Regions from separate parts of the Homo sapiens genome. Here region 2 is linked to region 1. A link means that fine-mapping ties the variant in region 1 to the expression of a gene that starts in the linked region. Tissue or cell type: whole blood. Region 1 holds a variant in brackets; the other region holds the start of a gene. All regions are shown on one strand. Distances are between the middles of the regions.

The links. PIP is the estimated chance that this variant, and not a neighbour inherited with it, causes the effect.
Region 2: it holds the start of RMND5B, and the variant in region 1 is fine-mapped to the expression of RMND5B in whole blood (INTERVAL, PIP 0.93).

The regions. Positions count from the first base shown.
Region 1 is chr5:178,168,457-178,171,210 of GRCh38, reverse strand. No RefSeq gene overlaps it. Among named protein-coding and RNA genes, the nearest start is that of NHP2, 16 kb to the right of the region's middle. The variant G/ACAAAG (reference allele first, on the strand shown) is at 1,091.
Region 2 is chr5:178,129,924-178,132,525 of GRCh38, reverse strand. It overlaps RMND5B (required for meiotic nuclear division 5 homolog B), which reads right to left and starts at 1,512. Exons shown (of 11, transcript NM_022762.5): 1 at 1,472-1,512; 2 at 1,150-1,289. RefSeq lists enhancers at 1-408, 1,687-2,338, 2,339-2,602 and a silencer at 1,366-1,955.

The DNA.
Region 1 (2,754 bases):
TTTTCTTCTGTTTCCATGGAAACACCTCCTATTAAAAATCTGTTTGCCTTCATCACATGCAGAGGCCTAGCCCATCTCCAATGCCACCTTCTGGATGAGACACAGCTATTTAAGCTGATACTTTCTCAAAAACGAGACACTTTCATGAGGATTCATAGCTCTTTTTGTAGCCTGTCAAATATATATACCCAACCAATCTGTCATCATATCCACTTACAATTGGCAGTGGTGAACCTGCATGATAATTAAGAATTCAGGAAGTGCCTCGATAGCCATGTGAAACATGCACCAACAAATCAAAGGTGTGTCTGACCCCACACTGTTGCTAGACCAGCGGTTAGCATCCTGGTCCAGGTCAGAACCATCCTGGTGGCAAAGCTGCTTGTAACATTGGCCCTGATTGCAGAGATGGGCATATCCCTCTGTTGTAGGGTCCACTGCTGTTGCACCCCCTGTATAGGAATGCAAGACAGGCATTCTCTCAGAGGCTCTCAAGACCTCGCACTATATTGCTCCAACAAACATCATCTGCAAGCCCAAGTACTCATGAATATTTACAACTCCAAATACATCAGTTCCATTCTGATGCCCAAAGGCTATGCTCCCTCTCAGCAGGAAGTAGCCAGAATGAATATGGTGCCCAGATCCCATAGAAATGGAATGGAATTTGTCAGTGGGGAAATGTAACTGAGTACCCCCATTTTTCTAGTGGGTAGTTTAATTTTTCCTCTCTCTTCTTTTGTCTTTCCCCCGGTTGCCCACTTTCTACTTAGCCTTTTAGAAATGGAAATATAGGCTGGGTGCAGTGACTCACACCTGTAATCCCAGCACTTTGGGAGGCCAAAGCAGGCAGATCGCTTGAGGTCAGGAGTTCCAGACCAGCCTGGACAATATGGTGAAACCCCGTCTCTACTAAAAATACAAAAAGTAGCCGGGCGTGGTGGTTGGCGCCTGTAATCCTAGCTACTCAGGAGGCTGAGGCAGGAGAATCGCTTGAGCCTGGGAGGCGGAGGTTGCAGTGAGCCAAGATTGTGCCACTGCACTCCAGCCTGGGTGACAGAGGGAGACTCCATCTCAAAAACAAAACAAA[G/ACAAAG]CAAAACAAAAAAACCCACAAATATAGCCTTCTACCTCCCTTTCACCAGTCTCCCTACGGGCAAGTTTATCTAACTGGACTCCAAGATGGAACTCTCAAGAGTTAACAGTTGATTTGCAAACTGAAGCATTCCTGCTAAGAAACTCTCACCCTAAAGAGGTTGCCTTGAGAGATACCAGCCTGCCCATGAAGATGCCAGCAGTCACCAGCTCTACTACTGGCAGATAAGGACCCCCTACCTTGCTCACTTCCTTCCATGCCTTTTAAAAGTTCCTGCTTTCTGCTCCAAAGGTGAAGTGGCATATTTAAAGGCAGGATGCCTGTGCCTCTTCCCCTAAGCTAGCTTTGGAATAAATCATCTTATTTCTACCAGATCCTGATCTCGTTAATTGGACTCTGCATATGGCAAGCAACTCACCTTCTGTTCAGTTACATAATGGTGTGATCATGGCTTACTGTAGCCTTGAACTGCTAGACTCACGCAATCCTTCCATCTCAGCCTCTCAAGTAGCTAGGATTTCAACATATATTTTCTGTATTAATCCGTTCTCACCCTGTACTATCTGAGACTGGGTAATTTATAAAGACAAGAGATTCAATAGGCTCACAGCTCTGCAGGCTGTACAGTAAGCATGGCTGAGGAGGCCTCAGGAAACTTATAATCATGGCAGAAGGCGAAGGGGAAGCAGGCACATCTCTACAGGGAGAACTACAAAACACTGCTGAAAGAAATCATACAGGACACAAACAAATGAAAACATTCCATGCCCATGAATTGGAAGAATCAATACCATTAAAATGGTCACACTGCCCAAAGCAATCTACAGATTCAGTGCTCTTCCTATCAAGCTACTAATGTCGTTTTCCACAGAACTAGAAAAAAAAACTATTTAAAAATTCATCTGGAACCAAAAAAGATCCCAAATAGCCAAAGCGATCCTAAGCAAAAAGAATAAAGCTGGAGGCTTCCCATTACCCAGCTTCAAACTATACTATAAGGCTCCAGTAACCAAAACAGCACAGTACTGGTACAAAAACAGACACATAGACCAATGGAACAGGACTGAGAGCCTAGATATAAAGCCACACACCTACAGCCATCTGATCTTTGACAAAGTCAACAAAAACAAGCAATAGGGAAAGGACTCCCTATTCAATAAATGGTGCTGGGATAGCTGGCTAGCCATATGCCAAAGATCGAAACTGGACCAACTTTCTTTCACCATATACAAAAATTAACTCAAGGCTGGGCACAGTGGCTCATGCCTGTAATCCCAACACTTTGGGAGGCTGAGGTGGGCAGATCACTTGAGGTCAGGAGTTCGAGACCAGCCTGGCCAACATGGTGAAACCCTGTCTCTACGAAAAAATACAAAAAATTAGCCGGGCATGGTGATGTGTGCCTGTAATCCCAGCTACTCGGGAGGCTGAGGCAGGAGAATCACTTGAACCCGGGAGGCAGAGGTTGCAGTGAGCTGACATTGCGCCATTGCACTCCAGCCTGGGCGACAGAGCAAGACTCTCTCTCAATAATAATAATAATAATAACAACAACTCAAGATGGGTTAAAGATTTAAATGTAAGACCTGAAACTATAAGAATCCAAGAAGAAAACCTAGGAAACACCATTCTGGACATCAGCCTTGGGAAAGAATTTATGAGTA
Region 2 (2,602 bases), 39 kb after region 1:
TGTGTTTATTTATGTATTCCCTTTTGTCCCTATTCTTCCCCTCTCTCCCCACCACACCTGGCTAATTTTTTTGTTGTTTGTTTTTGAGACAGAGTCTTACTCTGTCGCCCAGGCTGGAGTACAGTGGCACGATCTTGGCTCATTGCAACCTTTGCTTCCCAGTTTCAAGCGATTCTCCTGCCTCAGCCTCCCAAGTAGCTGGAATTACAGACACCTGCCACCACACCCGGCTAAATTTTGTATTTTTAGTAGAGACGGGGTTTCACCATGTTGGCCAGGCTGGTCTTGAACTCCTGGCCTCAAGTGATCCTCCCGCCTTGGCCTCCCAAAGTGCTGGGGTTACAAGCGTGAGCCACTGCGCCCAGCCTAATTTTTTGGAGCGACAGGGTTTCACCATGTTGGCCAGGTTGGTCTTGAAGTGCTGAGCTCAAGCCGTCTGCCAGTCTCAGCCTCCCAAAGTGCTGGAATTACGGGCGTGAACCACCGTGCCCAGCCAATTCTTATGCTTTTGCAGCCGCGACCTCCATCCACTCTCTACCCTACATGTCACTCCTCTGCTTAAAACCAAAAGATTTCCACTGTACTTAGAAAAAACTCCACATTCCTCTCTCTGACCTACAGACTCTATGTGACCAAACCCCAATTATCCGACCTCATCTCCTACCACTCTTTCCCTTTCTTACCATACTTTAGCCACACTAGCTTGCTTTCTGTTCCTTGACTATACTCTCAGTTGATTTCTGCCCTAGGGCCTTCACACTGGCTGTTCCCGCTGCCTGGACCACTCTCTTCCCGTATCTTCCTAAGCCTGCCTCCTAATTTGGGTCTCAACGCAAATGTCCCGTCCTCAGAGATGCTCTGCTAGACCACAGTATCTAATACTGACCCCTCCGCCCCACCCTCACACCAGTTACCGTGTCATATCGCCCTCCTCCATTTTTTTTTTTTTTTTACTATACAGTCCTACTTGAAGTTTCTAATCTTTCTTTTCTCATTAACCAAAACTGGAGGGAGGAAAAAGCCCATCATTTTCCCTGGACAGCAGCGCCTACTGGGAGTTTCACCCGCATTAACATGCAAACGACAGGCAAACTCCTAGTCATCCTTCCAAAGACCCTGCTCCATAGCCCTGCCGAGCCCGGTGCGCACCTGCTCACTTCCGACCCAGCGCGGTCGCACGAGGACTGGACGTTTGAGTCCGAGCAACTCCCCCCGGCTGAGGCGGCTCTTCGGGGGCTGGGCCGGGACCTATGAGTCTGGGACTCCAGCTCCCGGCCCAGGGCCGACAACTGCGAAGAGAACAAGCCCAAGGGCAGATTGTTCGGGGCTTAGTCGTGGGTAGCAGGGGTTCTGGAGAAGGCTGGGGCCCGGGAGGCCGGCCGAGCTTTCCCCGCCGCGCGCCTCAGCTCCGCCGGCCGCTGTGCCCGCCCTCGGCCCGCACCTGCCGGCTCCCAAGCCCGCCCGCTCTCACCTCGCCCCGCAGCCCCGGCCCCGGCTTCCGGCGCCACTGTCATCGGAACCGGAAGCCGCGGCGGGCGATCGGCGGCCCGGGCCCGCCCATTGGCGGTTTTGCGGAGGGGTGGCCGTCCCACGAGCCCGCGGCTTTGCGCCTCACCGCCGAGGCTCCCCGCCGCGCATGCCGAGTGGAGTCGCCCGCGGGAACCGGGCGGCGGCCAGAAAAGCCGCGCCTGTAGTCCTCTGGGGGTCGCGCCTGGTCGTTTCCAGGTTCCGAGTCCCTCCGGCCCGGCCCCGGGCCTCCCAGTCGGCGGAAGCCCCTGGCCGCGACCGCTCCTCGCCGGCGGGCGGGTTCCCCACCCGGCAGAGGCGTCGGCCTCGCACTCAACCCAGCACCCGACTCCCGGGTCAGAAGCCCCAAGCCCCAAGTGGTTACGCTTACAGCGCTGCCCGCCCTGCTCAGTGAGGGCGGCGCGGGGGCCGTGAGGGGCAGTGGCTGGGCTAGGTGCGCACCGGCCTCGGCAGGGCTGTGGAGCAGGGTCTTTGGAAGGATGACTAGGAGTTTGCCTGTCGTTTGCATGTTAATGCGGGTGAAACTCCCAGTAGGCGCTGCTGTCCAGGGAAAATGATGGGCTTTTTCCTCTCTCCAGTTTTGGTTAATGAGAAAAGAAAGATTAGAAACTTCAAGTAGGACTGTGAACAGGCTTAGGGATCCTGGACAGAGCCTAGAAATCTCAGGAGAACTGAGAGCTCTTGAAATATGAAGTGATGCTTAAAAAAAAAAAGAAAACTCCAGGCCGGGCGCGGCGGCTCACGCCTGTAATCCCAGCACTTTGGGAGGCCGAGGCGGGCGGATCAGGAGGTCAGGAGATCGAGACCATCCTGGCTAACACGGTGAAACCCCGTCTCTACTAAAAATACAAAAAATTGGCCGGGCGAGGTGGGGGGCGCCTGTAGTCCCAGCCACTCGGGAGGCTGAGGCAGGAGAATGTCGTGAACCCGGGAGGCGGAGCTCGGAGTGAGCCGAGACGGCGCCACTGCACTCCAGCCTGGGCGACAGAGCGAGACTCCGTCTCAAAAAAAAAGAATAGAAAACTCCGGGCCGGGCGGCTCACGCCTGTAATCCCAGCACTTTGGGAGGCTGAGG